Linked DNA regions of Homo sapiens. The protein of the gene in region 1 interacts with the protein of each later gene in a biochemical or structural test. Each region holds a gene or a part of one and is shown in the gene's direction. Other genes may lie near its edges.

Region 1 (4,307 bases):
TTAAACTATTTGATATTACATAAAGTTCCAACCAGTTTTCTCTTGAAAACTCTGGATAACTGCCCTGAAGCTTAGTCATGTGCACAGTTGTATGGGGTGATGCTTCAAATTACACAATCCAGAGCTGAAAACTGGTGTTTTCTGCTGTAGATGGTAGAAAAAAATAAGGGGCCAAACACAGAATATATTGGATGACTTTTGGCCTCCTATATTTGTGTGACAAAACTAAGCTGTCACGTCTGCGAGGGTCACCGAGAATTTGACTGGCATCCTGGGGATTCTTATCTTTAGCCCTATGACATAGCATCAGGTTACTTTGCATTTTTAGTTTCTGTTTTTCATTGGTATTGACTTTTCCATTCCTAACCCCCCTTCTACGATAATTATGTCTGCCACTTTCTGATTATTAAGCTGCTATAGATTTGGGGAAATGGGTAATTTTATCTGCCATAAGACTAATTAGATTCTGAGTCAGGACCTGGTAGTTTTCCTTTGAGTTAAAGTTATTACCTGTAGTTGGGCTTTATGACATTTGTTTTGATTGGCTGTATTCTGAATAGTACAGCTTGCTGGAAAATTAACAAATATATTAGGATTACCTTCTCTACATCATAAGGCTATTGTGAGACTCAAATGATATAGTAGCCATAAAACACGCTTCAAAAGAATTCAAAAGTAAAGAGGATAAGGGATGACTTTCTTCATATTCACTACCATTAGTATTAATAAATATTTTTTGTTGCCACCAATGAAATTCGGGCAGAGTCAATGCCATAAATTCCCTATAAGTGAATATATTTTAGTCATAAGAAAAACAGACATTACTGAAGAGATTCTTAGATAATAGCAACCATTTGCCTAGAGAGATCCAGGAACACCTTGGGTCCCTAATGGTTCCTGGCCCATCAGGAATGAAATAGATACAGATGCTGGTGATGATGATGATGATGATGATGATGATGATGATGACAATGGAGATGAGGATAATTATAATTATTGTTAATCTATATTGAATGCTTACTATTTTCAGGGCACTGATTCAAGAATTTTATACAAATTAACTCTTTTAATCCTCAAAACAACCCTATCCTACCTCATGCTATTATCATTTTTATTTTACAGATGAGGACACAGGCACAGAGGGGATAAGAAACTTGTTTAAGACCAGATAAATAAAATAAAATTGAGTTTTGACCTGCCGTAAAAATAAACATTTGTCAGGTTTCATGTATTCTGAGCACTAGAATGCACTTAAAATTGCTAGTTTCTTTATGAAATCATAATTTTCTGGCAAAATTCTCATACATTTTCCTCCTTCGTAAACTACATTCTTCATGGTAGTCAAGGGCCTTAAACGATAGGCACTATATTTTATTATTTTAGAGCCACTCTACCTAACAATGTTTTGAATGCAAAAGGTACAATACATATTGACAGAATGTATAAAGAACACTTTTATACCCAAGCTCCCCTAAGAGTATTGTGAAATATCTTTATAACAATTGATCATCTTGGTTTCTACTAATTCAATTTGGACATATGTTTTACAGAATCTATATAACTTGTGTTTCAGTATGTAACTGAATTATTACGTCAAAAAGATATGCTCTATAAAAGTACAGGAAGCATTTAAAACATATATTGACCACTTTGGTATGAATATAATTTTAATAATATCATAAAATTGTTATAACTTTGGACAATATATCCACCTACAGAGGCCCACAGTATTACTATATTAATATTGTAAATCTGGAAACCATCATAGGCTTCAATATAAATGGAACTGATGTACTTACAAGATTTATTACTTCTCAGAATGACACGCTGGGGGGAATTTGACGATCTCTATCGTATTAGTGAGCTGGACAGGACCCAGATTCCTATGTCTGAAAAAAGGAATTCCCAGGAAGGTCAGTATCAAAATCTTATTGATTGGGAGACTTAATTTTTAATTAGTGTAAAGTATGACTCCATATGTTTCTCTGAAATCTAACCTTTTTCATACTACTACACAATAAACTCTTGTTTTATATGTATATATATTTTTAAATATCTTAGGAGCATAGTAACTTAAGTCACTATAGTGCTTGTATGATGTTTAAGAACCTTACTTTGGTATATAAAAATATAATTCTTAAAAAAATTATATTATGTCACTTAGATTTATTAGAATAGGGAGAGCTAATAGTTTTAATAAAGTTTGTATTCATAAAATTGTTAAATATCTTCCCCAAAGATTAGAGTCATTTATTATTCCCAATAGCTTTATATGTTAGGCCAAGCCCATCAGACCTAATTCTGTATCTTTTTAGAAGTTGAACGTTTTAGTTAGTTAATAGATATGTCAATAACATTACTTCTCAGAAAGACACAGATATGCTGGAGTCAATTTTATATTTGATAGAGTTATTTCAGAGATCTTTTTAAAAGAGAAATATACTTAAGGATCAAATGGATCCATACTGAACTTGGCAAACCAATGGGAAATGCCAGCTCCAGGGATGTGTGACATTAGTAGTTATAATCATAATGGTGATGATGTGAGAGTAATAATAGTGATATTGATAGCTGTAATCTGATGAGACTCTGGTAAGTATCAGGCATAATATTTTGTACTTTATATGAATTTTTTCATGTAATTCTCATAAACACATAAGATTCAAAGAGTAGTGGATGCTGATGACTGAAGCTAGAATGAGGGGTGGTGGACAGGGTTCATGTGCCTGAAATGGGGCTGTGATTTACGAAGTCAGTTCAGTGTGAACAAAGGTATCCCACTAGCATTAACTTCATAAGCCTACCAGCAACTTGCAATGTTTGTTCTCTTTTTTTTTTTTTCAAATCATTCTCAATTCTGCCTCGTCTGCTATTCCACAGGAACCCAGATCCTGTGACAAACATGATGTTCCTTCCAGGGTTCCCTTTTCTCTTTATGCCATGGGATCTTTACATCTTGTTAAATATCGGCCCTTCCAATTATCTTTTAGAAATATATATGAAACCCAAGGAAATCCCAGTATCTTGGCATCAAAGACATCATAAAAATATATTTGTATTTAAACAGCAGTGCTAGAGAAGGAAGAAATATCTCATGCCTATTTGATAATGTTCTAATTACAGTAGAAAATTTTTTAAAATCCTAAAGTAAAATAAAACACAAATGCCACCACATGGTCTTATTCTTACATATGAATATGCATAGGAGAGGAAATTGAAAAAGGTACTATCAATTGTATACAAGCAGAAAGGGGGGCAGAAGGCAGGTTTGAATCTTCTGCATCTTAGGCTAGTAACACATTGTAGCTCAATTCAATTCCATTTAAACACCTTCTGCCTACTCAATAGATACTAGAGTTGTTCAACGCTACACTATAATTTTATACTCTAAAATCTGCTATAGAAATTGTAATAATTCAGTAACCAAATTTTGACTAATCAATTATGAATCATTGTTAAATATACATGACTCAATGAGAAGAAATAATAGGATAGTGGACAACTAAGTGAAAAAGTCATTCATATCATACATCTGGAATGTTCTAAAAAGAACATAATGTGATATATTACAAATAGTAGGACTAGTCCAAAGCATACTATTCCTTTTGCTTTTATAAAAGATGGGAACAAAATCTTTCAATGCTCCACATACCATATAAATAGCTTCTCAAAGAGCTTTCTGTAGTTTTATAGGAAAACTAAGGCCCAGTGTTTATTTTTTAGGAAAAGCTCCAAAGAACTTGGGCCAACATATAATGGGGTGGGGGGAGGGGGGAGGGATAGCATTAGGAGATATACCTAATGCTAAATGACGAGTTAATGGGTGCAGCACACCAGCATGGCACATGTATACATATGTAACTAACCTGCACATTGTGCACATTACCCTAAAACTTAAAGTATAATAATAATAAAATAAAAATAAAAATAAAAAAATAAGGATCCAGACCTGATTCTATCATTTATGAGTACTATGTCCATAGGAAAGCCACTTCAACTCACTGTACTTTTTCTTACCTGTAAGAGATCAAACCTGATAAAGTATCAGGTTTATTCCAGCTCTAACACTCTGAAATGCCACAAAATGCACTCCCCAATAAATTAAGATTAAAGGAATGCCCAAACCCCAAACATGATCATTGTGATCATTTCTTATGAAACATAAGAATGAGACATAAGAATTTTATATGAGATACTGGCAGAATTTGCTGAGTCAGTCTCAGGCAACATTTAATAAGTAAATATGCAGCTAAGCAGTGGACTATAATGCTTTTACACAGCCAGAAAATAGCAATATTCCTAAAATT
Region 2 (4,307 bases), on another chromosome or scaffold:
GCATTTACTAGTCTAGCTGCCAAATCTTAGTTCAAATCCCATGAGTTAGTGAATAGTGAGAACATCTGCATCATTTCTTTGTGTTTTGTTTTGATTCGTTAGGGCATAGATGAGAATATAACTTATTTTTAGAAATTTTAAAGTTGATATATTGACATGGAAGCTGGTGTATTCTAAATTATTGTGATCTTTTTTAGAAGACTGAAGAGATGGCTATTTCATAACATTAGTCTAATCTACCTGTTATACATTTTTCTCAACCTCTATATTATATTTAACAATAATTCAAGATTTAGAGCATTAGTAATATTAACTGTGTTGAATAAACATCCTATGCCCCCGTATGTAGTTGACATTATTAGAGTAATACAGTTTTGCCCTCTTGACAGCCACAGACACTGTTCTATTTTAAAGATTTAGCCAAAATAAAGGGAATAACGTATTAATGGCCACAGAACATTTTGTAGTCATTAGTAATAAAGTTCTGAATACTACACTTGTTTTTTGAAGAGACACTTTGTGTCAGTAATTTCTCAAGATACCATTATGTCTGTGTTATTTGAGATTAATATTGTTTCTAAGCAGGTTGTAATTTAAAATTTTTAATCTCTTTTAAAAATAGTATTCTTAGCTTCTTAATAGCCTCATGTTAGGTATTATATTAAATGGCTTTCTTAAATGGCTTTGCTTAAAAGCAACATTTGTTATAAAATAGCAAGATTTTTGCAGGTTAAACAGACTTTAAATACTAGAAATTAAGAATTTGAAGAGGTTATCTGTAGAACTTTTGAGTTTGATTAAAAACAAATATTATTTTCAGAAGAGACAAAGATTCTTTATTGTGATTCATTTTGGAAAGGATGAAAATAGAGTAAGGGAATTTAAAAAGAAACTTGCCATAAACATTGTTTTATTTTTTGCTTTTATCTAAACTTTGTGACAGAAATTGATTTTTCAATTTAATAAGGTATTGTAAAGTGTACTTAGCACTCTCTTGTCTTGACTAGTTGCTTTTTATTAAACCATATTCATAACATGACATTTAGAGACTAGCACAGTGAAAGAGTAAAATTTAACCATTTTTGTAAGATGTAATACTAATCGGAAATGTTCTCATATTGTCTTCTGACAAAGTCCATGGCAGAAGGATGAGCTGGGTTGTAGAACATGGCTTTTGTAGCACTGATTCTTCCTAGCCTTCTTTTCACTTAGGTGCTAAGGGTCGCCCTCCCAAAGCCAGTACTATCAGCCAGGTGACTTAACATCTTTCTGGCAGCTACTGTCTTTAGCTTTGATTTTTTTTCCCTTTTTTTGTTGTTATAATCTTTAATAGAGAATTGAAAGTTACTCTTTAAAATATGGTTTCTAATCTGAAGCTTTTCCTGAATCAATTAGGTAGTTTCTTATTGTTTTAGTGTAGTACTTAGTAGTCAGTACTTTGCCCGCTTATAGAAGAATCTTTGGTTTCACCTATTGCTTGGCTCGATTAGTTACTTGTTTCTTAATTATGACCCTGTTGTTTATTTTTCTGCAAAGAGAAAAGTTGTCATTTGAGTTTGAACTTTGTCTTTTCCCAGTAGTAAAGTTGAACTTTGGACCTCTGGTGAAATTGTTTTGTGATATACTACTATGACTAGGTTTAGTTTCTTTGATTTTACTACAGAGTATATATTCTTAAACCATTTCTATTCTGATTAATATACAAGTAGTGAATTTTGTTCTGAAATTCCCCAGACTCTAATTGTGCAGAGTTTTATGCTTCTTCATACACCTTTAAGCTCATATTTCAGCAGTTTGCTTTCAGTAAGTTTCAGTAAATTATGTGTATTTTATTCCAGAGATTAAGTATCGGTACAATAAATACATGAAATCATTGTCTACTGCCATATGCACACATTACATTCAACTACCCTAAGCAAGTAGTGTATCCAGGGATGGAAATCATAGGAAACAATGTTATAGTTTGTTTAAATAAAAACCAAGTTGAAACAGTTCCTGGGTAATGTTAAAGGTAGGTAAAAGTCTTCACTGCTGACTCTTTGGGACATCCAATTTGTAAGGGAGTTTTGTTAAAATGGGCTAATTCCTAGAAATACACTTCCTGTTGGTGAAGAAACACTACTGGATGCTTTAAAATAGGAAATATTTATGTTATTCAAATAAAAATAATGCTGTGCCTTTCTTATCTCTTGAATCTTTTTGTTAGTTTTTTTTTTTTTTTTTTTTTTTTTTTTTAGTGGGATATTTAGGATTTTTGATGAGTTTTGTTTAGGTGGTTGTATTATATGAGGATGGGAAAGGTAAGAGAATTTAGAGTTAATTGTTAGCCTCCCAGGCTTACAATACATTTCTTCGTACCTTTTTTAAAACAAGAAAATCTAGAGACCTAGAGATTATTTTAGAAACAATAGAAAAAGAAGCAAGCCAAGCCCCTTTGCTAGGGAAAGTAGCATTACATTTTGATAAACCTTGAAGTTGAAAATTTCCTATTTCAAATTTTGGTAGTTTTTTTTTCTTTTTTCCCTAAAGCTCTTAATAACTCAGGGGTTCAGGTTTTGGATTCTGTTCATTGACACCTTCAATTCATATGAGTAATGGGCTTACACCTTAGCAATTGCAAGCTGATTTGCTTGCATGATATTTGATGACTTTTATTATATCATTAACATCTTTGTACTTAAAAAATATTTTCTCTCCATCATTCTCTAAGAGTACTATATCCAAATATCTCAGTATGTATATATGTATATACGTGTGTGTATATATATATTATATGCATATATGTATATGTATATACACACACACATACTTTTGTTAACTTTTCTTGTATATCATTTTCTAGTATATCATTTTGGGTACTTTATTGATCCTGCCCTCACCCCCAGACTTTTATAATTTAGTTTGTAAAACTTTATTTTCCTAGGTTGAGGCATTTTAATAATTCTTTAATTTCTTGCTATCTTACTGGTACAAACAAATACTTAACATTTGGCCATTTGATTTTTAGATGATTTTAAATTTTATTCAGTTTATTGCTAAAACTGATTTTCATGTAACATAACTCTGTGTTCCTGGGACGTATACATTATTTTTCCTCTGAGATCCTGGCACATACTTTATAAAACCTTTTGTTTTGAGAGACAAATTTTTGTGATTTTTTTTCTGCTAATTTATGTAAACTGGCGACAAAACAAATCTTCTAAATTCATTCAAGTGTCTGACTTATGAAGTCAGTGCCTAATCTTCTCAAGTGATAGTTTCATACAGAGTCTTTACTATGTAACCCCTAAGTGCTTTGTAATTTTTGGGGGGACTTAGTGTTTTGGGAGTATGTTGAAAGAGAATCTTGTTTTTATGGATTACTTCAGTATTATTTACCAATTTCAAAATCTGTGAATGTCAGGGTTGTGTGTGTGTGTGTGTGTGTGTGTGTGTGTGATTTGACAAAAGATAAGTGTTTTGGTATTGAAGACTAGAACCGTTTCGCCTTTAATAAATTATTTTTTGTCTTCTGAAATTTTGAGCAATAATTTTCTTGAAATACTACATTTTGGTAGATAGAGTGAATGCCCTGAATTTAAAACTATTGTCTAAAGTAAGAGTTTCAGAAACTTAGAAGCTGGTGTTATGAGACATGTTTGTAGGGAAAGAGGCAAATCCATTCATTGCTCTTCTAGCTAATTTTGCTAACAAAATATCTTGCTAATATTTTGTTTTTGAAGAACAACTATTATTCAGAATGTTTTCCAAGAAAAGATGCATATTTTATTTAATACAGAAAAAATAAGAAGTCCTATTACTGGCACGCATTCATTCCCTCAGCAAATACTTAGTGGTGCACCCACCAAGTGCCAGCATGGAGCTAGCACTGGCGATATAAACATGAGTCAGAAATTGTGTGTCTTCAAGAAGCTGGCAGTTTAGTGGGAGCTTAATGACTCATTGGTAAGGAATACCTGTAGTAAGGGTTTTGCCTTTTTCACTTTTCTGCCAGTGTTTAAAACTCTTTAGGTAGGTCTTAGTATGAATTTTGGTGAAAATGAGACTAACTGGCTGCATAGTGTGCTATTCGAAAAAGTAGTGGAGCTGCATTTTAGAAAGGATTTGGGTTCTCAAGTCATCACAAAAAGAGGGAAATCAAATATAAGCAAAACTGTCTTTTCAAAAAGCCCTTAAATTGTGCATAAAATACTATATTGTACTGTTTGTAGGATGAGTCCAAATGCCACTTTTCCACCCATGTTGGAACCAATTGCAGTTTTTTGGTCGAATACCAGAAGAAGTAATTTGCTTGCATTAAAAAGATA
Region 3 (4,307 bases), on another chromosome or scaffold:
GCACATATCTGTATTCCCAGATACTCCGGAGGCTAAGGTAGAGGATCACTTAAGCCCAGAAGACGGATGTTGCCGTGAGCTGAGATTGCACCATTGCACTCCAGCCTGAGCAACAGAGCAAGACCTTGTCTCAAAAAAAAAAAAAAAAAAAAAGGAAGAGCTATAACCCATACGGCACACAATTCACCCGTTTAAGATGCTTCTAGTGTATTCACAGATGTGTGCAATCGCCGCCACAGTTAACTTTAGGACATTCCATCATCTGTAAAGGAAACATCCCCTACCTTTAGCTACCATCCTGACATCCTGATAGACAGGGGGCCTGAAGACCCCTCGGTGATGCAGGGCAGGGCTGGAGTGGGGGCCCTGGGCTGACTTTATTGCTCGCTATTGCTGCCTTGAAATTCTGAATACGTTTTTAAAACAAACGCACCATCCTTTCATTTTGCCCTGAGCTCCACAGACGATATAGCTGGTCCTGAAGTGGGGCAGAGGATCATTCTGACTTGGAGTCAGACTCTAGCGACGCAGGCTTCTACTGGGTGGAGGCCCAGGAGCTCAGGAGCCTTCTGTGGGAGTGTGCCCATTGGCAGCGCATCCCTGGAGATGGACGGACAATTTCCACATCGCCTTTGCCCCTGTGCACGCTCCCTCTGGCTGCCGTCATAAATTACCACAAACTGGGTGGCTTAAAACAACAGAAATGTATTTGCTCATGGTTCTGGAGGCCAGAAGTCCACACTCCAGGGGTGAGCAGGGCCGCACCCCCATGAAGGCTCCAGGGAGGGTCTGCTTCATGCCTTCTCTTGAGTTTCTAGTGTTGCCACCGACCCTTGGCGTGTCACTCCAGTCTCGGCCTCTGCCAACATGGGGTGATCATGGGGTGTCTAGGCCTAGGGCCCTTCTCCTCCTCTTCTTCTTCTTCTTTCTTTTTTTTTTAAGACAGGGTCTTGCTCTGTCGTCCAGGCTGGAGTGGAGTGGCACTACCTCAGCTCTGCAACCTACACCTCCCAGGCTCAAGCGATCCTCCCACCTCAGCCTCCTAAGTAGCTGCGACTACAGGTGTGCACCACAACACCTGGCTAATTAAAAAAAAAATTTTTTTAGGCCAGGTGCAGTGGTTCATGCCTGTAATCCCAGCACTTTGGGAGGCCGAGGCAGGCGGATCACTTGAGGTCAGGAGATCGAGACCAGCCTGGCCAACATGGTGAAACCTTGTCTCTACTAAAAATAAAGAATTAGCTGGGCATGGTGGCATGCACCTGTGATCCCAGATACTCAGAAGGCTGAGGCAGGAGAATTGCTTGAACCCGGGAGACAAAGGTTGCAGTGAGCCAAGATTGTGCCATTGCACTGCAGCCTGGGAGACGAGCAAGACTCTGTCTCAAAAAAAAAAAATTTTTTTTTAGCAGATTTTAGCAGAGACAAGGTCTCACTGTGTTGCCCAGGCTGGTCTCAAACTCCTGAGCTCAAGCAATCTGCCCGCCTTGGCCTTTCAAAGTGTGGGATTACAGGCATGAGCCACCACACCCAGCCCTTCTCCTCTTGTTATAAGGGCACCCATCCCTGGACTAGGGCCCACCCTAATGACCTCAACTTGATTACGTTGGCAGAGACTTATTCCCAAATGAGGTCCTACTTACAGGTACTGGGGGTCAAGACTTCAGCATTCTTTTGCGGGGGGCCACAATCAGTGACACCCTGACTCGCAAGCCTCAATCACCTGTTCCAGTGAGAAACAGGACTGAGATCAGAAGGAATGAGGCAGAGCTGCCCTCGATTGGTTCTCCTCTCCTCCTCACCTGCCCACCCCGGCCTCTGCGCCCGTCACTGTCCTCTCCAGCTGTTCTTCCTTCCGGGCAAGGAGACTCAGCAGAAGGGTATGAGTGGCCTGGCCCTGTGGGGAGCCGCAGACAGGCCTGTGGGTGCTTTGGATAACTACTGCGCCTGTCAACTCTCCTTGGTAGTCTAGGGTTCAAAGCCCAGGTCCATTCTAGAAGTCTGCTTCCAAGTGCTAAGGAAGCTTCAATAGTTACTGGGAAAACCACAGGGGTCAAAGGTCCGTCGAGTTATTTCCCGGATCCGAGTCTGACGTCTTTTCCCCGCCGCTTGCGGTGGTTGTGACCGAACCTTGAGTTTTGGAACAGGTCACATGGCTTTGAAATCACGGTCAATTCACCTGGTGCTGCTTTGACTTCAGGCTCTTCCTTCTGCCCAGCTCCGTCCCACCCAGCAGCCCGCAGAGAAAGGAGGCAGCTGGCACCACACTGGGCTTTGGAGACACTGCGGGGACTGTGGACCCCACCCTGCTGCACGGAGCTCCTGCAAAAGCAAACCTGAGAACCTTGGTGAGTACTTCCGGAGACCCGGCTCCTGGGACGGCTTCTGGCGCTGCTCCTGCACACACGACTCTCCAACGATCATTTTCCATGTTTTATTTTTATCTTTTAATTTTTGAGATGGAGTCTCACTCTGTCACCCAGGCTGGAGTGCAATGATGCAATCTCAGCTTACTGCAACCTCTGCCTCCCAGGTTCAAGTGATTGTCCTGCCTCAGCTTCTCAAGTAGCTGGGACTACAGGCACCCGTCACCATGACTGGCTAATTTTTGTATTTTCAATAGAGACGGGTTTCCACCATGTTGGTCAGGCTAGTCTCAAACTCCTGACCTCAGGTGATCTGCCCGCCTTGGCCTCCCAAAGTGCTGGGATTACAGGCATGAGCCACTGGCCCCGGCCCATTTTCCATTTTTCAGATGACAGGTGTTGATTTGCTCTGATTTTCAAGTATTTTTAGCATACAGATCCCTGCAAGAGGCATCTGTCTCCAGTGGTCCAGCCTCTCCTTCCAAATGAAAAGAATCAAGTCACAGGAATTCATGGGTCTGTAAGGAATCGCTCCCATCTGTGCCCAGGAGATTAACAAAGGCGGTGGCTGCAGCTCTGTGAGCAGTGGAGAAAAATTAGGCACAACCTGATATCCTCCCACAGGAGCGTAAGTCCACTGTGGTTATTCATATCATTGAATCCAGTGCACAGTTTAAAGGACCATGCATGTATCAAGCTGCATGTATCAGTATGAGAAACCTCAGAAGCCGTACAGCCTTGCACAGAACGATAGTTTCTGTGAAGTTCCAGCTAACACTGAAGGCACTGTTGATGTAAAGCTGCTGTCTGCACGAAGTATCATGCAAAGATGCTATGTACTGTTTATACACACTTCCATTTGTAGGAAATGATTTTTAAAATATCATTTTTAGGCTGGACTGTAATCCCAGCACTTTCAGAGGCTGAGGTAGACAGATCACCTGAGCCCAGAAGTTCGAGACCAGCCTGAGCAACATACGGAGATTCCATCTCTACAAAAATTAAAAAAGAAGCCAGGCATGGTGGCGCATGCCTGCGGTCTCAGCTACTTGAGAGGCTGAGGTGGGAGGATTGCTTGGGTCTGGGAGCTCAAGGCTGCAGTGAGCCACGATCACGCTACTGCGTTCCAGCCTGGGCAACAGAGTGAGACCCTACCTCAAAAAAAATCATTTTTAAATGATTTTAGAATGTCTGGCCAGAGAGGGAGGGAAGAGGGACTGAAGAGAACAAAAAGGCGCCATCTGCCTCGCATTTCCTTAAAAAGAAACCTGAAGTGCAGAATGTCAAGATGGTTGAATCCGCATGGTAGATATGTGGATATTTGTTATTTGCAGGATTTTTTAATATGCTGAAAACAGTGCACAGTTTTAAAACATTTTAAAATTATTTAGATGGATTAATGGGCTAATGGCCTCATGTTGATGCCAGAGAGGGGCTCAGGCAGGGGCACAGTGGGGTACACAGCTCATCTCTCGCTGGGATGGGAGGCTGGGCAGGTGACGGCTGAGGACCTCCAACAGCTCTTAGAGTCTGCACTAGCCAGCATGTCCCCTGAAGAGCAGGTGTTCCGGGCTGTAACGGCGACCTGCTTCGTGTATTCTGTCCAGACAGACCTGGGCTTGGGACATCAGCCCTGGTGGTGGCCCCAGATCAGCTGCAGCTCAGCCCTTTCGGGGACCTGTCCACCCTCTGTCTGCCTCGCCATCTTTGTAAGCCCACACCCCCCGCAGCCGAGCCGTGCTGGCCGTTACTACCCTGAAGTGTCTTCTGCGAGGCACTTGTGCCCAGTGTCACTCCCCAGCACATTTCCCTCATGTGGAGTCCTCTGCGCAGTCCTCTGTGTCACTGTCCTGGGCCGCTGCAAACAAGGGACCACCTGCTGCGTAGTTGAAAACAATGGGAACTTTTTTTTTTGTTTTTTTAGACAGAGTCTTGCTCTGT
Region 4 (4,307 bases), on another chromosome or scaffold:
TTCTATGCTTCATTTGTTGAGGGTTTTGAGCTTGTGCTCTTATGAAGCGATGTTGAATTTTAAAAAATTCTTTTTCTGTGTCTATTGAGATGATCATATGATTTTTGGCCTTAATTCTGTTTAGGTAATGTATGACATTTATTTGTGTGCATATGTTGAATCATTCTTGCATCTCTGGTGTAAAATCAAGTTGGTCATGATGTAATATCTTTTTGATGTGTTGGATTTAGTTTGTTGAGAATTTATTGATAATTTTTATATCTGTGTTAATTAGGGATATAGGTCTGTAGTTTTATTTTTTGTTATTGTGTTTCTGGCTGACTTTGGTGTCAGGGTGATACAGGATTTGTATAATAAGTTAGGGAGAAATTCCTTTTCAGTTTTTTGAAAAGTTTCAGGAGTATTGGCACCAGTTCTTCCTTGTACATTTGCTAGAATTTGGTTGTGGATCCATCTGTTCCTGGGATTTTCTTTGTTGGGAGACTTTTCGTAGTTGGGAGATTTTTTTATTGGATTTTAAATCCAATGTTGTTATTTCTCTATTCATGGTTTTTATTTCTTCCTGATTCAATCTTAGGAAGTAGTAAGTTTTCAGGAATTTGTCCATTTCCTCTAGGTTTTCTAGTTTGTGAGCATATAAGCATAAGGGTGTGGACTCAGTACTGCTACCTTGGCCAAGAGGAGTGAGATGTGATTCTCTCTCATGCCCCCATTTTTGGTGGGGCTCACCACCTTCTCAACTTTGTCAGTAGGTTTGGCTGTTCACTTAGTTAGTGCAGTTTACTTCTAGTTGTCAACACAAGCTGCCCCAGGCCTTAGGAGTCACTGCACAGCCCAACACTATGCCTCCCAAACAAATCCCCTCCTGTACTGGTGGGGGAAGGGGGTGAAGTGAAAGATGGGGTGAGCCTGGTTCCAGCATGCCAATGGCTGGAGCCCATGCCATACTTGATTCTCGGTTCTGGCTGTGGGAACCTCTTCCCTGCTTGAGCACCAGATCCCCAGGATACTGTTAGAGCCTCTTTAATGACAAAGGCTGCCACTGCTGCTAGTTTTCAGGACTGTGCACAGCTTGCAAAGAGCTAGGATCAAGAATGGTGTTCTGTTGTAGGTTCCAAGGTCTCGGGAAGTGCATGGGACACTTCCCAGAGCAGGTACTTCTTACAGTCTCCCAGCCACATCCCAAGGTAGATCTAGGGCTTAGAAAAGTCATGGTGCTCTACCGTGGCCTGAATTATATGATTCTATAGTGGGAAATTGGACCACAGAAAGATACTCACTCACCCTCTCCCATATTGGGAATTTACTCTCTTCTCATTTTCAGCCAGTCCCACAGCCACACAGGCTGACTGTTCTTCTTTTTCTGGTCAGATTTTGGAGTTTCTTCGTGTGTTACTGTTGAACTCCTGTGTTCTCTCTTGGATAATATGTTTGTAAACAAAAAAGTTACTGAGGTGGATCTTAATCAATTAGAGATTTATTTTGCCAAGGTTGAGAACATGCCTGGGAAAAAGAAACACAAATCACAAGGAGATCTGTACCCTGTGCTTTTTTTTAAAAAGGGTTCTGGGAACTTCAATATTTAACAGGGAAAAAGCAAGCAGGAAGAGGAAGAAAGAAAAAAAGTCTGGGTAGGCAATGAGATAAGTGGTCACATTCTTGTGAGGATCTTACTAATGAGCAGAAAAGCTACATTTTACATAAAGTAAACATGAAATTACAGCTTTTTGGGAATGAAAGGAAGGCAGTTTTTTCATGACTAACTACCTAAACTTAGCCCTTTGGTATAGTGAGTTTGGGGTCCCAATATTTGATTTTGCTTTCATATGTGCAAAGTGTGATTGTCTACACACCATTGTCATTCTTCTAAGTGGATGAAGTACCCTGGAAAAGCATCTAGTCAGCCATCTTGAAAAAAAAACCTGTTGTTTCTTTGTAATATTGCTTTATAAATCTGAGAGAACTTGGAACAAATCTAACAAAATAGAAGATACTTCTGGAGAAGTGAGAAAATTGAGAAAAATGCAACTGATGAGTTCTTGATATGTTTAGCTATTATTATTATCATTACTATTATTAAATGATACTTTCCAGTTGGCAAAAAAGTATTCTGGAGGCTATTCTTTCTACTGGGGCATAAGTCAAACTATGACAAAAGAGAAATGCATGCAGAGAGCAAGCCATAGAAGGCAAGTTAGGAAATGATACGAATATTTATCTGTATTTATTTTATTGAATCAATACTGACAACAAAAATTTCCAACATTAAGTACTTCCAAGTATTAGATACTAAGCAAAGAATTAAATATAGTATCTTATTTAATCATCAGATCAATTAATTATTTCCACTTTAGTGATGAGTGAAGGAAGCTATATATATGGTAATCAACTTGACAAGGATTACCTATTAATAAATAAAAGAGAGGAGATTCAAATCAAGACAGAATTCTGAAGCTAGAACTTTTGTTCTTATCACCTTATAACAGCTCCTGCATGTGTGTTAGAGAGAGAATGAGGGTGAGAAAGAGGAATATATACATTCTTATTTAAACCTATGTGGATAATCGTGTAAATACTCCTTATTATACTAATACTTCTAGTCAATGCCAGTCTCTAAGAGTATCTTATTTAGTTTTTCAGTTAGTTATATATATATTATTACTTGCATATAACTTGATAATGACTGCAACCGTAAAGGAACACAATCTTTTGAAATGTTATAGGCAGCAAAGGTAGAAACTCTAGTAAAAGAAATCTAGTGTCAATGATTTTAGATGATTATGTTGAAAGTAGATCTTTAAAATGATTGAGCTATAGTCACTTTTCACTAAATTTCTGATAAAGGAACCCCTGCTTTTTCCAAAGTTTCTCCTCCTCCCACCCATCCACTCTTAGCCATCTAAAGCTTAGAGTCTATGCTGCCCCCTTCTCACTTAACTCTCCAATATCTTTTCCTGGCAGGTGCATTCTATGAATTTCTTAGCAGGATCACCTGGTCTTTTTCAGGCTTGCACCAGGTTGCTCTTGCATTTGTCTTTAAGTCCTTGATGGTACTACAGTCTCTCCCTACAATACAACTTTCCCCCTCCTACTTTCCCTCAAGATGATTTATCGTTCCTTATTCTGCTTCCTTAGCATGTTACCTCTATAGCACTGTCATATGCTCGTTATTTTAACATATTTCTCTCCCTCACTAAAATGAGACCTGGGTGCTCAGATGCCATTTGCAGTGTGAGTCAGTTCATGAGAAGTATATTATAAATAACAACAGGAAATGGCAAGAAGTTTTCAGAGATGCTGAAACTATATTTGCAGAGTTGATTAGAGGATGCTTTGTCTGAGAGAGAGTCACGACTTGGGTAATATAACAGAAGATCTTAAATTGAGTTTTAAAAGAGCAAAGGAGTAAAGTTTTGCTAAGAGAATAGAAAATCTTACATGAAGTCCATTTTAAGATCCTATTGCTACATGTGATTTATGAAAAGGAAAAAATAACAAAATTTTCTGACTAATAATGACATTAGATAATATTTTTTATTATAAGGAAAATGAAGGGCAATTTAATAAACCATAAAATTGGCAAGGTTTCTGGAAACTGCAACGTTTAGTTATAGATTTTTGCCAATTTATCAATTTAAAAAGCTAAGGTAGATGTTGAAATATCTGCAGTATAAAGAGAGGGCATACTAAAATTTTTGCTATAGTAGCTTGTCATTATACTGTGTTCAAGTCCAAAATTTATAACCAGATCAATCATCCCATGTCCTTCCCTAGCTTCAGCTCTCAATGTTTCTGCCTCCTTTTCTTTGAATTTCTGAAATGCCTGACTTGGCCCCAGCCAGTCCCATCCACTCTCTGGAAAGAACACCCTTTTTCTATACTTTATCTTTGATATTCTACTCGTTTTCAGCCACTGTTTAAAATTTACTTCCTAGAGAACATTTCTCTAGCTTTTCAATCTATTGTGATATAATACCTTTTTCTTCCTCTTCTTCTTCTTCTTCTTCTTCTTCTTCTTCGTGTTCCTCTTCCTCTTCTTCTTCCTCCTCTTTTTCTTCCTCTTCTTCTTCTTCCTTCTTCTTCTTCTTCTTTGCCTTCCTCTTCCTCTTCATCTTCCTCTTTTTCTTCTTCTTTTTCTTTTTCTTCTCCTTCTTCTCCTTCTTCTTCTTCTTCTTTCTCTTCCTCTTCCTCCTCCTCCTCCTCTTCTTCTTCTTCTTCTTCTCCTCCTCCTCCTCCTCCTCCTTCTCCCTCTTCTTCTTCCTCTTTTTGAGATGGAGTTTCCCTCTGGTTGCCCACGCTGGAATGCA
Region 5 (4,307 bases), on another chromosome or scaffold:
AGTGGGCTTGTTTCTATTTTAGAGAATGGTTCATTAACACTACTGAATCTTTAGACCTCAAAAGATTGTAATTATCTGAAATTATCAACCATATTTTTGGGAATTAATTCAGTTATAAAGTCTACATTGTAGAAATTCCACTGCATTATTACTGTTTATGGAAACCTGTATACTAATAACTCCAATAATGGCAATCTTACATCTAGTTTAATGATTCAAATTGATAAGAAAAGTCTGAGCACATAATCTGATTAATGAATTCACAAAGGGTCTCTCCTATTATAGGCCCTGACTTCTGGTTGGCTTTTAACTGGTGTGTTGGAGCCAAGTAAAGCCACCCCCCTTTCCCACATATGGACTATTTATGGTTATTCAAGAGTAAACACTTGGAAAGAGGCCTATTGGTATTTTTTACTATCTGGTTACCTCCAACTTTGTATAAGCTAAATAAATATAACACAGTGAGCCAATTTGAAAATCTCGAAGAGGCAGTAAGATGGTTGATTTGCAGACCAGAGAGCTAGCTTGCATTTTCATTTTTGCAGACCATATACATAAGCAGTGTGTGGCTTTGGTGGTTTTCCCACATTTATATATATTTATTTACATATACAAATGTTATTAAATAGCCTCTTTGAAAAGGAGAACCATATGCTGTTAGAGCTTTTTGCTACTCTTAGAGTTTCATATGCAGCCTCTTTGAGCAGTTTTGAAGAAAAAAAAATACTGCTATTATAAATTACCTCAATATCATTAATAAAAGTAATATAACTTAGAACATTATTAAGAATAAGTATTTTCAGTTTAATGAAGTCATCAATAATGGCATTTTCAGTTCTGAAGGAAAATAATTACAGCTGTTGATTGATAAAAAAATACATTTAGCTCAAAAATGAGATAGTTTGCTATGCTGATGTTATTTTTACAAAATCTAGAAACAATATTTTATTTGGTTTCTGCTTTCTCTGAATTTCACTGGCAACCATGCATTCCTGGAGGAAAAATCTTTTTCCAGTTGTAGAATATTCCCCAGCCTGCTTCACAAAGATGTTATGAGGCTGCATGTTTACACATGGCTGGATTTTAGCCAGACGTTTTGTAAAGTCATTTGTGATATGTGTGATATGTCTGAATATAAGACAGAAAAATGTGAACCTACAGGTAGGTAGCTTTGTAGCTAAATAGTTGGAAATGGTGGTTTGACTAATGAATCTATATCTGCGTGGATTTTTAGAAGCTGCTTTCTAAATATAATAGAACTTCAGAAGTTCCATTCTTGACCCTGTATTATTCAATACTTTTACCAAGGACTTGGATGACTACCAAATTAATAGATGTTGCAGACTTGGGAGAAAGCAAGTTTGTGTGTGACATCTGTGCATTTGGTGACTGAATTCTGAAAGGTGTTAATAGGTCAAAATCAACAAAATTCAAAATAGTATTTACAACTATCAATCCTAAGTCAATAGGAAGAGGAAAGTCTTGCCTAATGTGGATTTGTGTGAAAAAGATGTAAGAATTTTAGGTGATCATAAACACCTAACTCAGAGCCTGTCATATAACAGATGGTCAGAGGATGTTGGTTTCATCTCAGACCGATTCAGAGAAGAACTCTAATTGTGATAAATGCTAAGAATCATGCTCATCTCTTGTAACTAAAGAAATAATTGAAGTTAGGTGTATTTTCTAAGTGCTGTTACATACCCAAGGATCAGTCACTATACTTTTTTTGAGATTATAAAGGTGAATACATAAATGTTATATGAGTATTGAATAATGCATTAGATATACATTATATTTTACTTTTAATGGTAAAAACCGTAATTACTTTTGCACCAACCTAATATTTCTGTGCTGAAGAATTAGAGTGAAATTACAATTAACCTGGTTTTCTTTCAGGTAAAAGTCACTTATCTAAAATAAGTTTGTATACCTGAAATGTGCTACTTTCCTTAAAATAACAATTTATTTTCTCTAGCTTAAGTGTATTTAATTTGGAAGAAGCAAATTTGTAATCTAGTAAAACTTAAATTTCTGTTCCACTAGAATTAGTATTTATTTCATTAGCACTTGCCCCATGTTAATCTGTTCATTCTCATACTGATCCCATGAAGTAAACACATTTTACAGATGAGGAGACTCATTCAGACAAGTTCTATAATTTGCCTAAGTTATCAGTTAGTAAATGGTAGTACCTAGGACTCTAATTCAAGACCGTCATTAAAGCCCGTGATCCTAGCTACTATTCTCTCCTTGATGCTAGTCACTGTAAGTTAATATTAGAAACTCTGTTTTTAAATGTCTTTAATGTGGTTTTCTTTGTAAATAATGATTGTATAGCATTCTCACCATACTTAGCACTCTCACAATACTTAGTTTCCTGTGGAAATGTCACATAAACATTCCTACAAATTGGAAAAATAAAAGGTTGTCACACTTCGGTCACAATTCTTTTTTTCTAGGTCAACAACTACAATATCAGCAATGTGTCCCATAACTATGCCCGAGCTGTCCTTTCCCAGCCCTGCAACACACTGCATCTTACTGTGCTTCGAGAGAGGCGCTTTGGCAACCGAGCACACAACCATTCTGATAGTAACTCTCCACGAGAAGAGATTTTCCAAGTGGCTCTTCATAAACGGGACTCTGGTGAACAGCTTGGCATTAAATTGGTGCGAAGGACAGATGAGCCAGGGGTTTTTATTCTTGACCTGTTGGAAGGGGGGTTGGCTGCCCAGGACGGCAGGCTAAGCAGCAATGACCGAGTGCTGGCCATCAATGGGCACGACCTGAAGTATGGAACTCCGGAGCTTGCTGCCCAGATTATTCAGGTAAACCCTCTTGGCCTTCATTCCAAAGGCTTGGCCGAAATGATCATATAGTAGTATTTGTTTTCACTGGCCAATAACATCAGAATTCAGGGGACATTTTATATTTCATTAGAAAATCGGGTGTGGCTACCTGAATTCTTTAAAATCCACACTAGTATAACTTCATTGGAGATAGTCTTTTCTAAAAACTATATCCCTGTGAATTTTGGGGATGGTTATTTACAGAGCGTAGGCTCTACTGTTTCACATTCATTTCTCATTTGGGTCCTGGGTTCTACTATTAAGCCAGATGTAGCAGATGATATGTCCACCTTTTAGAAGTGAGGAAAGGGAGGCTCAAAAGAGCTGTGATTACCAAGGATCTGACTTACCTGGTCTCTTAACTCCCTGTCAGGATCTATATAAATAGAGGAAGAATAACTCTTATCTCTATAGTGCTTTGTTGTTGTTTCTAAGGAATTCACAGTGTTTAAAATACATGATAAAATTTGTCCTCATAGCATCTTTGTGACATAAGTAAGGATAGTCATTATTAGAGAAAGAACATGTTTTTCATAAAAGCATGAAGATGGATAAGTTGGAAAGTCATCCAGAGGAGATCTATACATTCTGCAACATGCCATAGCATTTAATGATATGAGCAACTTCTACAGTGATAAGGGTGCAACAAAAAGATGTTTTTCTTAAAGTTAGCAAAACAAAACACTGTAAAGGAAACCAAGAATTATGTAATTGAGGATCAGGAAGTAGGGTAGGCCGATAGTCATTGAAGAATGTGTTTACAACACAGAATCAAATAACAATGAAAATTTAAGACTATAAGAAAATTCAAGTCTCAACTCTCTTTATTGTATTGAGAGGAGATTCTGATATTGGTCTAATTTCATAGACTTGAGGTTTAAAGAAATTGGATGCCTTAAAATTTCCTCAAATCAAAGGCAACATTAGGACCTATATCTGTGGGTATTAGCCAGCAGCTGCACCACTAAAACCCAGCTCATCTTGTAAGAGTGGAGATTAGTGGGAGGGAGGGGAGAAAAGAGGAGGAGGAAGAAGAAAGCTAATAGAGTTATAGCATCTGTTTGAGTAAAAGAGTCAAGTGAGAGGCCAGATCAATAAGATAGAAAATAATAGATGGACTATATGTATTTCAGGCAATGTTTAAATTATCTAATCTAGTTCATTCAATTGGATGATTCTAACTAAATTTCTAACCAAAATGTGAAAAATACAGATACACAGATAGAAAATGTATTTTAAATTGTCCGTGATCATATTTTATATTTGGATGTTATAAATAGTTTCAACGTATTTTGTGCTATAATTTTCTCCAAATAATGGAAAACTAAAGTTGCTCTGTTTCTTTTTGAAAATAAGTAAAAGCGTTATTGTTTTTGGATTTTAAAAAATAACATATACTCCATGTCTTAAAAGGAGACCAATAGTAAATGATTTTAGTAAGGCATTAAACTTGTT
Region 6 (4,324 bases), on another chromosome or scaffold:
GGGTGTCAGTCTCGAGGATAGGAATTTCAGAGGGTGGGTTTTCCAGGTACTGGGGGAAGAGAAGGGAAGGGGTCTAGGATAAAAGCAAGTGTTTGGAAGGAAGGGTCTTAGTTCTCAGAGGCGAAGGCAGAGTGGATCTTAGCCGGGGGAAAATGGGATGGGGATCCAGAGGGTAGGGGGTCTAGTTCTGAAAAACAAAGGGTCGGTGGTTTGGGAGTCAACGGAGGTGGGATGAGAGAGGAGAGAGCAGGGGCTCCTAGATGAGCGGGGTTTGATTTCCTTTGGAGATTGTGGGAAATGATTTCTGAGGGGCATGTTCTGGATCCAGGAGGGGAGGGGTCTCGGGAAAGGAGGTGTCGGGGTTGTGAGGGGTGGTGCCGATCCCAGAAGGCCTGGAGGGGAGATTTCTCTAAGGGTCAGGGTCTCATCTCCCGCAGCCTTTGGGTTCTCCTGTCCATCCTCAGCCAAAGGCCTGGATTTCCCTTCCCTACTTCACCACCCAATCTAATCCGTAGTCCCGTCATGGCCAGATCGCAGCCCAGATCCTGGAGGGCCGGAGGTAACGGGGTCTCGCAGCAGCAGCACTTCCCTAGTTCAGCACCCTCCATCCCGGACGACGCTCAAGAAGACCCGGGGCAGCCCGGAGCCTAGTCCAGAGGCGGCCGCCGATGGCCCCACGGTTTCTCCTCCTGAGCGCCGCGCTGAGGATCCCAACGACCAGATCCCGGGTTCCCCGGGGCCCTGGCTAGTGCCCAGCGAGGAACGGCTCTCGCGGGCCCTAGGGGTCCGGGGGGCAGCGCAGCTCGCTCAGGAGATGGCAGCCGGAAGGCGGAGACACTGAGCCTACCTCTGACAGCGCGGGGCTCACTAGTTACCGCCCAACCTGGATCCGGCGCGTGTGGCCGCTGGGCACTTGGCACCTCCCCAAGAGCTTCCACTTGGTTTGGTCCCCCCACCCGCTGCTCAGTGGCTCTGACCACACTCCCCTCGCAGCGTCAGTGGTACGACCCTTCCAGCCGGCTAGCCTGCGCTTCTGGTTCTGGGAGGGGGAGGTAATAAAATGGTTCGATCCGGTCTTGACTTGCCAGGCGCTCGAGGCGGGGTGGGGCTGCCCGGGCCACTCTGTAAAGGAGCAGGTGGGTCGATCCTGCTTGAGTAATCGCTGACGAGCTTCGTGCTGCTGCTTTCCTGCTTGCACATGTTATCTTTGCTTCTGCCGGTCCTCAGTCTGGCGTGCTTTCTTTTTCTCTTCGCCGTCTCCTGCTCCTCTCCTTATTCATTAATTTCACCTTTTTGGAGGTGTACAGGGTCTCACACATAAATTATTGTGCATGGCATGGAGAATGCAGAGGTGAGCCTGTCGTGGCAGGACTGCACCAGTGTATCCACAGTCCTGTCTCGGAATCATACAGACCCTCAGCTGACGTCGGGATAGCAAGGCTAGAAGCCTAGAAGCAGGGCAGCTTCCTTCGCCAGAGGCCTGCGGTCTCCCACTTCCGGCCTAGTCTGCCAGCTTTTGCTGGCACGTAGGCTACCACTCTCCGGGCACCGGCTGGGGTCCTGGAGCCCCCTTTGGGGCGGAGTGGGGAAGGTGTGAGTCAGCGCCCCTGGACGGGCCGGGCTAAAAAAGGCTGTTAGAACCTTTGGGCCGTGCCCCCATTTTCCGTACATGGTGAAGAACTGCAGCCGGGCTTGTGTGCACACGCCACACACTGGGCGTTCCCGGCACGGGAGAGGCCCAGAGTTTCCTTCACCCTGGGAACAGAGCCCTACAGCCAGGGCTTATATGGCCAGCGGGACTCCAACCGGGGTAGCCGCGAGGAAGGCGCTGGCAGAGGACAGAAATGTCCAGTCACCTCCGCTGTCACCACATCCTGAGCACTCGGCCCCATCCCCCCACAGGAGGGAAGCTGTGGTCTGACGGAATGGGCAACTTTCGCCCCTGTGGGGAGGGGACGGGGAAGGAAGAAAGAATTTAAAGGACCGGAATGCGAGAGTCCAGGTGGCCTTGGAGAGGAAAGAGGAACGGTGAAGACAAGCTGCGAGAGCTGGGAGCTGGAGGGTGAAGAGGTGAACACTTGAGTGGTTAGAGCTGTAGATAGACATTGTGGGGAAGTGTGCCAGGGTGGCTTCCAGCTACCCCTGACTTAGAGCCTGGTGGAGGTGTGGTTCTTCAGAAGTCAGCAAAGGGCTCAAGAGCCCCAGTCTATAAATACAGTCACACCCAGGAGACTAATAATAGTAACCCCAGCCACCATGTACTTAGTTTTATCCCTGCTACTGGCTTTATTGCAATATTTATTTTCATCTACAATAGTTGCACATCTACTCAACTATCCGAATATGTCCATTTCGCAGAGGAGGAAAGTGAGGCCCAGGGAGTGCAGATAGCTACAGAGAGGAGGGTCAAAGCACGATTTAATCAAGGCCTGATTCCCAAGTCTGTCCTCTCAATTTCACCTGCATTGACAAGTATTAATTGAACCCCAACTGTATATGTTGCACTGTGCTAGGTACTGTGGAGATGCTGGAGGAACAAGACATAAAATTTCTTTGTGTAGCTGATGTATGTAATGAGAGTAGACAGATGTCAGACAAAAAAGACGAGAAAATGAATAAATAAAAAACCAGGCCAGGCGTGGTGGCTCACGCCTGTAATCCCAGCACTTTGGGAGGCCGAGGCTGGTGGATCACGAGGTCAAGAGTTCAAGAGCAGCCTGGCCAAGATGGTGAAACCCCGTCTCTACTGAAAATACAAAAATTAGCCAGGTGTGGTAGCAGGTGCCTGTAATCACAGCTACTCGGGAGGCTGAGGCAGAGAATTGCTTGAACCCAGGAGGTGGAGGTTGCAGCGAGCCAAGATCGCACCACTGCACTCCAGCCTGGGTGACAGAGCGAGAATCAGTCTCAAAAAAAAAAAAAAAAAAAAAAAAAACTTCAGGCCAGACATGGTGGTTTGTGCCTGTAATCCCAGTACTTTGGGAGGCGGAGGCGGGTGGATTGTTTGAGCCTACAAGTTTGATACCAGCCTGGGCAACATAGACCTTGTCTCTACAAAAAGTTTAAAAATTAGCTGGGAGTGGTGGCTCATGCCTGTAGTCCCAACTACTTGGGACACTGAGGTGGGAGGATCACTTGAGCCTGGGAGGTCAAGGCTGCAGTGAGCCATGATTGCACCATTCCACTCTAGCTGGAGTGACAGTGAGACCTTATCTCAAAAAAAAAAAAAAAAAAAAAAAAAAGGCCAGGCTCGTGGCTTACATCTGTAATCCCAACACTTTGGGAGGCCAAGGCAGGCGGATCACCTGAGGTCAGGAGTTCGAGACCAGTCTGACCAATATGGAGAAACCCCATCTCTACTAAAAATACAAAATTAGCCTGGTGTGGTGGCACATGCCTGTAATCTCAGCTACTCAGGAGGCTGAGACAGAAGAATCGCTTGAACCCGGGAGGTGGAGGTTGCGGTGAGCCAAGATTGTGCCATTGTACTCCAGCCTGGGCAACAAGAGCAAAACTCCTTCTCAAAAAAAAAAAAAAAAAAAAAAGACAATTTCAGAGAGAAGTGAGAGTCATGAAGCTATGAAGCTAGCAAAAGGAGGTTACATTGTGGGAGATGATGGTGAGCTTCTGGCCTCTTTGAAGACATAACTCTTGAGCTGCAACCTGAATGACCAGAAGCCAGGTATATGAAGCACTGAGTGAAGGGCATTGACAGCAGGGGGAATAGCAAGTGCAAAGGTGTTGAAGTGGAACCAGGTTCATCTTGTTTCAGAAATTCAGACGTGTCCTCACAGAGTTGGAAAGCACATACTCATCACTAGGAAAAGTATGTTTCATCCCTTCCACTATTCACTCACTCTTCCGGCAACCGGGGCTGAAAGAGGGGAGCTCTTTCCTTAGTTTTGAGGGGCCCTGTGTTGGCAGAGAGAGCAGGCAGGCCCTTGGGTTGAATCCTCCTGGCCATCCAGTTATGATTCTCCCCCACTTCAAATGAGATGAGAATAAAAACAACTTCTAGTCTGGAGAGTGTGTCCCTCAGGGTACCTCTGGGATCCTGATTCCAGGAGACGAGATGCATGTCTTAGATGCAGAAATTAAGGCTGAGCTGGGGGAAATTACTTGCTCAAAATAACACACTTAGCCAGGCGCAGTGGCTCACGCCTGTAATCTCAGCACTTTGGGAGGCCAAGGCGGGAGAATTGCTTGAGGTCAGGAGTTCAAGACCAGCCTGAGCAACATAACGAGACCTTGTCTCTACTAAAAAATAAATAAATACAAACAAAGTGTCTACAAATGTCACCCAGCCTTGCACCCCAGGAGCCAT
Region 7 (4,307 bases), on another chromosome or scaffold:
ACCTCTGTAAAATATTCAAAAAGACCCAACTCAGCAGGTTAAAATAGCCTTTGATTGTGTATTTGTAATGTATTTAGAGATCACTTCAATCATGTTTTTATGAAGTAATGAATGATCTGCCAAGGGGTGTGTGTGAGAGAAAAAAGTAAGAGTGAGAGAGGAAGGTTGGTTTACCAGTCTTAAGATAGGCTGATGTCTTGGTTTGTATAGTTCAGTGCTTCAATCCCTTGATTTGCTGTGGCTGTACAGTTTTTAAATAGCCAAAGTCAAAGAGGAACATCCATGAGTGCTTTTTCACAAGGTTCTGGTTGAACCATCATTTTTACCTTGACTTCGTAAGGAGCCAAATAAAAAGCATACAATATGGCATTTGTCAGAGATTTTTAAATAATATTTAACCTTCTCATAATCCTGAGCATCCAACAGGACCACCGAGAGGAGTGGTTTGTGTGAGCTGTCATGGCTGGCCCACCTCTGGAGGCCGTGTGATCACTCTAGCCTCTTTAGAATGCAGAGTTACAAAAGCAAATCCCATTTCCATTGATTTAGTTACAGGTCGGAAGTGAAAGCAAGGCAAGATGTGAAACCAGACATCCGACAGCCTCCATTCACAGACTACAGGCAGCCCCCGCTGGATTACAGGCAACCCCCAGGAGGGGACTACCAGCAGCCCCCACCCTTGGACTACAGGCAGCCTCCCCTACTGGACTACAGGCAGCACTCCCCCGACACCAGGCAGTACCCTCTGTCGGACTACAGACAACCCCAGGTACCTCCTCCCGGAGAGCAGGGTGGGTCCTGACCAAGGCTTCCAGAGAACTGCAAGGAATGAAATAGGAGAGGCAGAGGAAAGAGTACCTGTCTGGGATGGAGAGCTGAAGTTCTATTCCTAGTTCTGGTAACATCGGGGTAACACCTGCATCCTCAGAAACATGCTGGATAAATAAATCTATTTCAGAATAAAGCAGGACAATAAATAAATATGGATAAATACATAAATAAATAGCGGATGAGTAGTAATGGAATAAACTAATCCCTGCTAATACTAGCTAACTCCTTGTACGTTTCCTTGTCAAAGTTTTAAAAATGCTCTAACCTGGGACCTCTGAGAGTGCTGCTAATGCAGAAAATTTTATAGATGCTAGCAGTGGAGGTATTTTAGGTCCATATTTTTTTACGTGGCCCCCTACCTGCCACTCTGTGATAAAGGGCCAAGCCCCTGTGCGTAAGAATAAGACCAGGCTTGGCTTCACAATCCAGAGTGTAGCGCCTGCCACAGCCAACAACTCTCTGTCTACACAACCAGTGTCACTGTTGTTATGATTATTTGTTGATGTGCTTCATGTCAACTTCCTTAACTTCTCTGAGATTCAGTTTCCTAAAGGGAGAGTCTTCCTTACAGGCCAGGATGAGGATTCAACATTTATGAAAAGAGTCTAGACCAGAGTTTGGTATCTAGAAAATATTTCCTACTTCGTAACTACATACCAAGATATAAATTAAGTACAATCTCAACTCTATCAGATTACATTGTGTTTTATTATGAATTGAAGATCAACTTTATGCCCAAAGATTTTAAGAATAGTGAAGATCAGAGAATCTTGGACATACTGCATTTTAGGTAAAAGAGAAATTGATTTTGTACATTCCAACTTGATATTCAATAGTCTGTGCAACTGAGAGATCTAATTATCAGATCCCACTAAATTTTACTTTTCTAATCAGCAAACTCTGTAATTTGTACACACACACACACACACACACACACACACCTGACATTTATTTATGGTGCTCAATAGCAGTGAATGAGAGAAGTAAAAGGAGAGATGATGTCACTCAGGCCTATCTGTAATCATTCCACGTTTGCCAAGTAAACTGATGAATACCAAAGTAAACAAGCTACACAGTAATTCTTTGATGACCAAGTAAACTGTGCTCTGGCCTGCTCAAACCTTTGGAATTTTGTCTTTCATTTGGGTAGTTTATGAAGCCAGATTACGACTTCTCCCAACATCATGTCATTTGGAATACATTAACTAAGAGACAGAAGGAGAACACAGAGACTAGCCACAGAAGCTTCTCTGATAACTAAATAATTATTTATTCCATTTTCTCCCCAACCCCAAAGGATTTTGATTATTTCACTGTGGACATGGAGAAAGGAGCCAAAGGATTTGGATTCAGCATTCGTGGAGGAAGGGAATACAAAATGGATTTGTATGTGTTGAGACTGGCAGAAGATGGACCAGCAATAAGGAATGGGAGGATGAGGGTAAGAACAGTCTCTTTTTATAGAATTGCTTAATTCTGAAAGAAAAACCGACTGTGGTATTGGAAGAGTACTGAAGCATGCTGTCAAGCGGGGTTGCTGTAGGTTTGCCCTCTTTCTAGTTGATGATGACCCAGTTTCTTAAAAGTCTGGCCACTTGCTATTTTATAATATCTCTCATTCTCATTTTTCTGCTTATGACCTTCTAATTGATTAACCTCAGTAAAGTACTATTTTTCTAAAGAGCAAATGAAAGAAATCTAAGAAATAGCTTGAAAAGGAAACATTATTTCTCCATAATTCTTTCTATGGTTTGATGATTCTGTTTTGATTAAGGTTGAATCTTTTGAAATTTATTTTTAGTTTTGTGCTTTTTCCCCCATATTGATTAATCACATGGTTTTGCGGGACTTTTAGGAAATTTTTCCTTTGTGTTGACTGGTCTTTTGGTTTGATACTGGGCAGACAGAAGCATTAGGAGTAAAAGGGATTTGGCTTCTTGGATACAGGTTGTTCTTAAAAATGACAGCAGGGGCCGGGCGTGGTGGCTCACACCGGTAATCCTAGCACTTTGGGAGGCTGAGGCGGGAGGATCACAAGGTCAAGAGATGGAGAACAACCTGGCTAACACTGTGAAACCCCATCTCTACTAAAAATACAAAAAAATTAGCCAGGCGTGGTGGCGGGCGCCTGTAGTCCTAGCTACTCAGGAGGCTGAGGCAGGAGAATCGCTTGAGCCCAGGGAGGCGGAGGTTGCAGTGAGCCAAGATCGTGCCACTGCACTCCAGCCTGGGCAACAGAGTGAGAATCTGTCTCAAGAAAAAAAAAAAAAAAAGACAGCAGCTAGAAATTTTCCAATTAAAGTTAAGAGTAGATTTTTTCATTTAATAATTACTTTGAGGCATCTGATTGATGGGTAACTGATTCTTCATTTAAGGGTATAAAACAAAGCTTGTTAACAATATAAAATATTAGTCTCTTTACTCTCTCTGTGTGTTTGTGTGTGTGTGTGTGTCGGTGTATGAATAAAATCTAGAATTTATTCTTGCCCTCCCTCCTGCCTCTTTAAGTTAATAAAGAAAAGCTGTGGCTTTGGGGTTCCGGAACCTCAGGTTCTTGTGCAGAGCCTCACCAACCAATTTTCCCTGATGGCTGAATCTGTTATTTCTACCACCAAGTCTGCATTTCTATGATACGCATTTCCAAGTCAGAGGATTATCCACAGTCCAAAAGCAGAAGGCATGCACATCATGTCTTTGTTTCTCCCCACTACCACAATCCTTTGACAGCTGGGAAGCATCCAAGTTGGAATTTAAACCCAGGCAGGGCTGACACCAGAGACTGGCAGCCCTCCCCGTGATCTAGCACCAGCCTCCTCTTACCCCGTCTAGCCCTGATTTGAAGATGGGCCTCCACATGGTTTCCTGGCTCTACAGCTTCCCTATAAGCCAGAAGGACACTTTCTTAACCTGCTATAAGGCCAGCTCACAAGCAGTTAAGTAAAACAAAATTAATCTTTCCAGTGCAGGTGAAACACAGTAGGAAGACCATGTGCAAAATGGCCAGAGCCCTGTGAGAGATAGAGACCCACGGTGGACTACAGGGCTGGTCTCTGTCGGTTACAAACAGTGGCCATGTATTTTCACAAGGGATCTAAATGACTCGCTGCTGGATATACACAGTACTCCCAAGGCAAAGAAGCCTAAATAGAGAAATACCCTTGCAGGAAAAGATTCCTCTTTCTTACAGAATTTAAGCCAGAGCAATGGTTCTCAGCACGGTTCCTGGCATCAGCATCACCTGGAAACTTGGTAGAAATGTAGATTCTCTAGCCCCACCCAAAACTGCTGAATCAGAAACTCTAGGAGTGGGGTCACCAGGCTATGTTTTAGGAAGCTCTTCAGGTGAAACTCTGAGGTTTTACCTTCCGAGGTTTTATTATAGATACCTGTGTCAACTGCAATCCAAAAATATTACATAAAATTTTTCAGAAATAAACAATTATAAATTTTAAATTGTGCAGCGTTGTGAGTATCGT

What was found.
Region 2: the proteins of RASSF6 (region 1) and MAGI3 interact in a test that uses a peptide from one of them, tested with the Homo sapiens proteins (one large-scale study listed by IntAct).
Region 3: the proteins of RASSF6 (region 1) and CARD14 interact in a test that uses a peptide from one of them, tested with the Homo sapiens proteins (one large-scale study listed by IntAct).
Region 4: the proteins of RASSF6 (region 1) and SNTG1 interact in a test that uses a peptide from one of them, tested with the Homo sapiens proteins (one large-scale study listed by IntAct).
Region 5: the proteins of RASSF6 (region 1) and LNX2 interact in a test that uses a peptide from one of them, tested with the Homo sapiens proteins (one large-scale study listed by IntAct).
Region 6: the proteins of RASSF6 (region 1) and MAGIX interact in a test that uses a peptide from one of them, tested with the Homo sapiens proteins (one large-scale study listed by IntAct).
Region 7: the proteins of RASSF6 (region 1) and MAGI2 interact in a biophysical measurement, tested with the Homo sapiens proteins (one large-scale study listed by IntAct).

What each region holds. Positions count from the first base shown.
Region 1 is NC_000004.12:73,585,446-73,589,752, reverse strand, and holds part of RASSF6 (ras association domain-containing protein 6), read left to right. Parts: intron 1-1,818; coding exon 1,819-1,913; intron 1,914-4,307.
Region 2 is NC_000001.11:113,392,882-113,397,188, forward strand, and holds part of MAGI3 (membrane-associated guanylate kinase, WW and PDZ domain-containing protein 3), read left to right. Parts: intron 1-4,307.
Region 3 is NC_000017.11:80,176,308-80,180,614, forward strand, and holds part of CARD14 (caspase recruitment domain-containing protein 14), read left to right. Parts: intron 1-2,200; 5' UTR 2,201-2,348; intron 2,349-2,787; exon of another isoform or gene 2,788-2,796; 5' UTR 2,797-2,994; intron 2,995-4,307. UniProt on the Homo sapiens protein: Acts as a scaffolding protein that can activate the inflammatory transcription factor NF-kappa-B and p38/JNK MAP kinase signaling pathways.
Region 4 is NC_000008.11:50,697,600-50,701,906, forward strand, and holds part of SNTG1 (gamma-1-syntrophin), read left to right. Parts: intron 1-4,307. UniProt on the Homo sapiens protein: Adapter protein that binds to and probably organizes the subcellular localization of a variety of proteins. May link various receptors to the actin cytoskeleton and the dystrophin glycoprotein complex.
Region 5 is NC_000013.11:27,560,937-27,565,243, reverse strand, and holds part of LNX2 (ligand of Numb protein X 2), read left to right. Parts: intron 1-2,462; coding exon 2,463-2,831; intron 2,832-4,307.
Region 6 is NC_000023.11:49,165,559-49,169,882, forward strand, and holds the end of MAGIX (PDZ domain-containing protein MAGIX), read left to right. Parts: intron 1-515; coding exon 516-841; 3' UTR 842-3,216; downstream 3,217-4,324.
Region 7 is NC_000007.14:78,123,659-78,127,965, reverse strand, and holds part of MAGI2 (membrane-associated guanylate kinase, WW and PDZ domain-containing protein 2), read left to right. Parts: intron 1-549; coding exon 550-769; intron 770-2,128; coding exon 2,129-2,272; intron 2,273-4,307. UniProt on the Homo sapiens protein: Seems to act as a scaffold molecule at synaptic junctions by assembling neurotransmitter receptors and cell adhesion proteins. Plays a role in nerve growth factor (NGF)-induced recruitment of RAPGEF2 to late endosomes and neurite outgrowth.